Homo sapiens: one gene and its partner. The protein of the gene in region 1 purifies or fractionates together with the protein of each later gene. This does not show direct contact. Each region holds a gene or a part of one and is shown on either strand. Other genes may lie near its edges.

Evidence for each region.
Region 2: the proteins of MOK (region 1) and NAA50 purify together in Homo sapiens (affinity purification with mass spectrometry; 3 studies listed by BioGRID and IntAct, with this or other methods). This does not show direct contact.

What each region holds. Positions count from the first base shown.
Region 1 is NC_000014.9:102,298,412-102,302,329, forward strand, and holds part of MOK (MAPK/MAK/MRK overlapping kinase), read right to left. Parts: intron 1-3,918. UniProt on the Homo sapiens protein: Able to phosphorylate several exogenous substrates and to undergo autophosphorylation. Negatively regulates cilium length in a cAMP and mTORC1 signaling-dependent manner.
Region 2 is NC_000003.12:113,739,359-113,743,276, reverse strand, and holds part of NAA50 (N-alpha-acetyltransferase 50), read left to right. Parts: intron 1-3,918. UniProt on the Homo sapiens protein: N-alpha-acetyltransferase that acetylates the N-terminus of proteins that retain their initiating methionine. Has a broad substrate specificity: able to acetylate the initiator methionine of most peptides, except for those with a proline in second position.

The DNA of each region.
Region 1 (3,918 bases):
ATCAGCACTCTGTATCTAGCTCAAAGTTTGTAAACACACCAATCAGCACCCTGTATCTAGCTCAAGGTTTGCAAATGCACCAATCAGTGCTCTGTGTCTAGCTGATCTCACGGGGACTTGGAGAACTTTTGTGTCTAGCTCAGGGATTGTAAACGCACCAATCAGCACCCTGTCAAAACGGACCAATCAGCTCTCTGTAAAACAGACCAATTGGCTCTCTGTAAAATGGACCAATCAGCAGGATGTGGGTGGTGCCAGATAAGAGAATAAAAGCAGGCTGCCCAAGCCAGCAGTGGCAACATGCTCCAGTCCCCTTCCACAATGTGGAAGCTTTGTTCTTTCACCCTTTAAAATAAATCTTGCTGCTACTCACTCTTTGGGTCCAGGCTGCTTTTATGAGCTGCAACACTCACTGCAAAGGTCTGTAGCTTCTCTCCTGAGGCCAGCAAGACCACGAACCCACCAGGAGGAATGAACAAGTCCAGATGCGCCGCCTTCAGAGCGATAACACTCACCGCGAAGGTCTGCAGCTTCACTCCTGAAGCCAGTGAGACCACGAACCCACCAGAAGGAAGAAACTCTCAACACATCTGAACTTCAGAAGGAACAAACTCCAGACACACTGCTTTTAAGAACTGTAACACTCACCGTGAGGGTCTGAGGTTTAGTTCTTGAAGTCAGTGAGACCAAGAACCCACCAACTGCGGACACACCAGCATTTAAGAAAGACAAATTACTTGACTCTTTCCATGGCGGAAAAAAAAAAAGACAGTTTAAACCTCATTGTAATTACAACAGATACTTTTAAAAATTCTCTCTGGGCCGGACGCAGTGGCTCACGCCTGTAATCCCAGCACTTTGGGAGGCCGAGGCGGGCAGATCACCTGAGGTCAGGAGTTCGAGACCAACCTGGCCAACATGGTGAAACCCCATCTTTACTAAAACTACAAAAATTAACCAGGTGTGGTGGTTTGCACCTATAAATCCCAGCTACTCGGGAGGCTGATGCATGAGAATTGCTTGAACCCTGGAGGCAGAGGTTGCAGCGAGCCAAGATCATACCACTGCACTCCAGCCTGGGCAACAGAGTGAGACTACCTACAAAAAAAAAAAGAAAAATTCTCTCTGATACAATAGCAAACTGTTACCGTCTTCAGAGTGTAACTTCTCTGGGTTTTTGTTTTATTTTTTTGAAACAGGGTCTTCCTTTGACATCCAGGCTGGAGAGCAGTGGTGTGATCCCAGCTCACTACAGCCTCAAACTCCTGGGTTCAAGCAATGCTCCTCCCTCAGCCTCCCGAGTACCTGAGACCACAGGCATGCACTGCCATGCTTGGCCAATTTTTAAATTTAGTAGAGACAGAGTCTCGTCATGTTGCCCAGGCTGGTCTCAGACTCCTGGATTTAAGCAATCTCTTGCCTCAGCCTCTCGAAGTGCTGGGTTTACAGACATGAGCCACCATGCCTGGCCACTTTTCTCTTTTTATAGGTATGTTTTGAATAATTCATTAAAAAGTTGAGACAGGACCAGGCACAGTGGCTCATGCCTATAATCCAGGAGTTCAAGACCGGCCTGGGCAATATAGGGAGACCCCCATCTCTAGTAAACAATTAAAAACTTAAGCCGGGGAGCCGGGCACAGTGGCTCATGCATATAATCCCAGCACTTTGGGAGGCCAAGGCGGGCAGATTGCCTGAGGTCAGGAGTTCGAGACCAGCCTGGCCAGCATGGTGAAACCCGATCTCTACTAAAAATACAAAACTTAGCCAGGTATGTTGGCAGGCACCTGTAATCCCAGCTATTTGGGAAGCTGAGGCAGAAGAATCACTTGAACCCGGGAGGTGGAGGTTGCAGTGAGCCGAGATCGCGCCATTGGACTCCAGCCTAGGCAACAGGGCAAAACTCTATCTCAAAAAAAAAAAAAAAAAAAAAAAGCCTGGGCTGGGCAACACAGCAAAACCCCATCTCCACCAAAAAAAAAAAAAAATTAGCTGGGCGAGGAGGCACATGCCTGTGGTCCTAACTACTCAGGAGGCTGAGGTGGGAGGATTGCCTGAGCCCAGGAGATGGAGGCTGTCGTGAGCTGTGGCTACACCACAGCACTCCAGCCTGGGCAACAGACTCTATCTCAAACAAAAAAGAAAGTTCAGACAGGAAAAAAGAGTGGTACTTTAACTAGACTAGATAAGGGGAAACTTTTCCAAGTCAGGATCTGACTGATGTTTTCATTCTTTCCCTTTTTATATCCCTGCCTTCCATCTGCTGAAATAGCAAATAATAATTCATTCACAATTTATCATGTATCAGACACTGTGCTATGAGCTTTATATAGATGATTTCACTTAATCTTTGAAACAATGCTATGTGATTGGTATTATCATCCCTGTTTAAAGATGAATGTGGGCTGGGCACACTGGCTCACACCTGTAATCTCAGCATTTTGGAAGGCCAAGGCAGGTGGATCACCTGAGGTCAGGAGTTCTTGACCAGCCTGAACAACATGGTGAAACCCCGTCTCTACTCAAAATATAAAAATTAGCCAGGTGTGGTGGTGCGCCTAAAATCCCAGCTACTCAGGAGGCTGAGACAGGAGAATCGCTTGAACCCAGGAGGCAGAGGTTGCAGTGAGCCAAGATTGTGCCACTGTACTCATTCCAGCCTGGCCAACAGAGTGAGACTCCATCTCAAAATAAAAAACAAACTTTTAAGATGACTTCAGCTCCAGCCACCATCTGAGTGCATGAGAGACTTCCAGTAAGACCTGCCTAGTTGAATCCAGGCAACCTGAAGAACCACAAGAAGGACTGTTGTTCCTTTAAGCCACAAAATTGAAGTGATCTGTTACGCAGCAATAGATAACCGGAACAATGAAGAAAAGCAGTATAAGAAAAAGTAACATGCCTGAAGCTGCCATGCCCACCCGGTTCCAAAGCCCACGCTCTTATCAACTGCACTGTGTCACTCTTTGCTCTCTACTGTTGCAAACGATGCCAAATAAAAAGAAGGACAGGAATACTCCACAGAATAACACACCCCTAAACACAGGGCATCACCTAGAAAACAAGTACAAAAATATACCTAGAAAATCCTGACAGACCCCTGTAATAATCTAGCATTCCCAGCCCCACTCTGACCCCAAGCTATGGATCCAATTTCACCATTACTCACTTTTCCTGATCATTCTACTTCTATAACTCTGTCTCTGTGATTTCCAGTTCTGGAATATTCTCTCCATTGTTAACTATTTTTAAATCATTTATTTAATGATCAGGATGTAAACCAGGGGGATAAAAGGTTACAATAATTCTTAGAGTACATTTTAAGGTAGAAGGAAGAAAGGGAGAATAAAGATGTCACCACTAAACCAAGTAACCGAAAACTACCAAAATGACCATCTAAAAGAACATACCAAACAATACTAAATATACTTTAAAAACAAAAGTTTACAAGAAGTAAATCATAAATGTACATTTTTTGTGTATTTTGTTTTGTTTTGATTTTTTTTTTCTTGTATTTTTTGGTTGAGATGGGGTTTCACCACATTGGCCAGGCTGGTCTCGAACTCCTGACCTCAAGTGATCAGCCAACCTCGGCGTCCCGAAGTGCTGGGATTACAGGCGTGAGCCACTGCACCCGCCCCATAAATGTAAATTTTATATGTATACACACATATACTTTTTTTTTTTTTTTTGCTCTGTTGCCCAGGCTGGAGTGCAGTAGTGCGATCTCAGCTCACTGCAACGCCCCCCTCCCAGGTTCAAGCGATTCCCCTGCCTCAGCCTCCCAAGTAGCTGGGATTACAGGCACCTGCCACCACGCCTGACTAATTTTTGTATTTTTAGTAGAGACGGGGTTTCACCATGTTGACCAGGCTGGTCTCGAACTCCTGACCTCAAGTGATCCACCCACCTCAGCCT
Region 2 (3,918 bases), on another chromosome or scaffold:
GCCAGTCAAATATTTAAAATTGTACACTGTTGCCTATGTTGCCTATCATATTGAAACTTAAAACTTAGCTGGTTTTTCTTCATATTTTTACCATGAGTATTTTTATTAGTAGTAGCAGTAGGACTTTCCATTGTATTGGCATGTCTTTCCTCCATAGAAGATAAATTTCCGGTTATTAACTACTGAATGTAATTTATATGCACATGTAGAAGTTTGAGATATACTAGGAAATGTTGCTTACTTTTGAGGTTGGCTGTTTTTATGAACCAGGGACATTGTAGTTTGAATTTGTGGGTGATATTTTTATCTGTTCTTCTCTAGGGAAGGCGATTTCAAGCAAGAAGGTATGCCACAGATAACCATGACTGAGGTGGCAATGTAATTAGGCAGTGTAATGGAAAGTATAATAAAACCAAATCATTTAGCCTTCAATTGTAGTAAAGAGGTGCAAATTAGTTCTAATAAAAAATGTCTTTAACAAAATGTGAATACGTGACTAAGATGGGAAAGTAGGTAGCAGTAATATAAATATGGAACAATGTTGACTACTAATTGGAATAGTAAAGGGAGCCATTTTACCAAATAAAATTAAAATGTAAGATTCTGCAGTCAGAAACAAAACTTTAAAAACTCCGAACAGTGGTTACCTCTGACAGCATATGGACTGGGAAGGGGCAAAAGGAATGCTTTTTGCATCTCAGCATAGTGAGACCTTGTCTCTACAAACAATAAAGCAGCCAGGAGAATCACCTGAACCTGGCAGGTGGAGGTTGTAGTGAGCTGAGATCGTGCCACTGCATTCCTGCCTGGGCGACAGAGTGAGACTCTGTCTCAAAAAAAAAAAAAAAAAAGCCAGGCATGCTGGTGCAAGTCTGTAGTTCCAGCTACTTGGGAGGCTGAGGCAGGAGGATCACTTGAGCCCAGGAGTTCAAGGCTGCAGAGAGCCATGATCTTGTCACTATATTTCAGCCTGGGCAACAGAGCGAAAACTGGTCTTAAAAAACAAAACAAAACAAAACTTTTTTTAAAGGTTTATTGCTGTTTTGTTTTTCAGCAAAACCAAAAGCTAGTCAGGCTGACGTAGCATTTGACACCTTTTATAAACCTACAGTTTATACTTCTTCCTTCTGTGAAACAATTTGTGGTTTGTTGATTGAGATAGTGAATTTTAACAAATACTTTGTAATGTGCCCTTGCTGTGTTGAGATGAATTCATATAAAATATAACCTTACACCATAAGTTTTTTTAAAAAATCAATGTACTGTTCTCTCTAATATAAAAGAAAAATAAAAGGGAAGTAATTTATAATAAAATTTATTTCAGTATTTAATGATGTGGCACAACTATGCCATAAAGCATAAGATCAAGTGTTTGCATCTATCTGTAAATAGAATCATCGTGTAATTTAGAAAGTATGTCTGCTGCCTATACAGTTGTGTGCATTGTTGACTCATGTTGTGTTGCCATTAGTGGTGTAATTTCTTCCTGAAATTGCAGACAACTCTTAGGAAAGCTCTAAACAAAGAATAATCAATACTTTCTGAGTTGGAAAAGATTTTTTAAAGTCACTTAGTAGTCCAAGCACTCATCTTATTGAATCAAGATATATTCCCTGTTTATCATAATTTCAAAGATCCTTACTTCTGTTGTGTGAATATTATTGCACATGTGATCAGTAGAGTGGGAAGTGTTACTGGGACTCCTAATTTTTTCTTCCAGGTATTGCTTATGGCTTTCAGCTGTGTGATATCTGAAGCGATACTCTTTCTCAATTATTCAAATGATTGGCCTTCATCTTTTTTTAAATGCAGCCTGCAGTAACCAATAGAATACCAGTAGTAACCAGTAGACACATTCTTCCCATCGTGAACGTGAGAGCTATATTTAAGTCTATTCAATGCCTAACTTAATGGCACAATTTTATTGTTCTGTCTAGTACAGTCGTGACTAGCTACAGTTGGCGATTGAGCAGTTGAAATGTACCTTGTGGTCTGTGGCACAGTTGCCATTTCCCGGGTAAGATGTCTGCAGTCTGTGTACTGAGGACCTGGAGCAGGAATGCTGGGCAGCTGATTTGTTTCACTGTTTTCCAACATGTAGTAATGTTCATGTTTTGAAGCCAAATTATGTGTGTTTCTTTGATTATCCTTCATTCAAGTATAGTCATCCACATAACTTTCTGAAAACAATTAATGCTGTATGTGGACAGCTTGTTCAGTTCAGATTCTCAGACACTGAAGAAGGGATTAGAAAAGTAACTGTTAATGTTATGTAAAAGAAGGAGATACAGTGTCTCAGTTTGATAACATCGGTAAAGTTCAAAGTGATAAAGCTTCTGTTACCATCGCTAGTCCTTATGATGGAGTCATTGAAAACTCTAGCATAGTCTAGATGATATTGCCTATGTGGGGAAGCCATTAGTAAACATAGAAACAGAAGCTTTAAAGGGTACTGTTAATTTGTTTTACCAAATTGATTATTGTCCACCTTTTGTCATTGGGTCTCAATTAAAAGTGACCTTTAAAAAAAAAAAAAGAAAAAATGTGCCTTGTATGACAGAACTAAATTTTAAATTTTAAAGTGTGAAAGCTCGGATTCTCAGCTGGGTACTGTGGCTCACACTCGTAATCCCGACACTTTGGGAAGCCAAAGCAGGAGGATCACTTGAGCCCAGGAGTTCAAGACCAGCCTGGGCTATAACATAGTGAGACCTCATCTCTACAAAAAAATAGTAATCATAATTAGCTGGGGTATGGTGGTGTGTGCCTGTAGTCCCAGCTACTTGGGAAGTCAAGTTGGGAAAATCACTTGAGCTTAGGAGGTTGAAGCTGCACTGCATCGAGGCATGATAATGTCACTGCACTCTAGCCTGGGTGACAGAGGGAGACCCTGTCTCAAAAAGAAAAAACTCACAGTTATTGGTCCGTTTTTATGTTTGAAACAACTTAGATATGTGGATCTACTGCAGATTTTGTGAAATGTAAATACAGATCAAATATTTCTAAGGAAAATGAGTAGTTGAATTGGGCCATGCTGTAAGTGTAGTAAACTGGATTTTAAAGACTTGGAATAAAAAAAATTTTTAAGGTAAAATAAGTTTTATTTTGACTACATGTTGAAATGATTTCTTCCCCTTGTAAATGTGGATGCTAAACTTGAATGAAAAAAAACTTCTAAGGGAAAATAAGTTTTATTTTGACTACATGTTTAAATGATTTCTCCCTCTTGTAAATGTGGATACTAAACTTGAATGAAAAAGTTTTTAAGGTAAAATAAGTTTTATTTTGATTACATGTTGAAATGATTTCTTCCCCTTGTAAATGTGAATACTAAACTTTTTTTTGTTATATCAAGGAAGTCTTCCCAAGATATTAAACATTTTAAAATTTTGTATGTCACTTGTATATCTGTTGGACGGTCCTGTGCTAAACCCATAAAAAAGCCAAAGTTGTATAAAACAGGATCTTTTCCCTTAGAATCTACTTCCCATCCCAGATGGTAGATATTTCTAAATGTTTCAACTTGTGGGCCAACAGAAAGTTTATGGCTGTTTATACCTCTGTGTTGAAGGATTTTGAGGCGAATCTGGTTTTTTGGTTAAAGTGTTGCCATTCAGTCACTTGGTCTGCTGTGAAAGGGTAGGGAAGAGATAATTGGAAGTATTCATCTTTCTTGAGCTAGTGCAAGCTATATTCTGCCTCTGTCAGAAACTTGTTCTCCAACTCCAGAGGCTTCTTACCTCAGTCCCCTATAGTGCTGTAGTGAATGCTTGTTCATAAAACTACCTGACACACATCCTTAATTACTTCTTTTGGATAATTTCCTAAGAATGAATTTTCTGGATCAAAAGGTACTGACATTTTTAAAGCTCTGGTGTTTCTTGCCAGTTGACCTCCAAAAAGATAGTAGCAATTTAT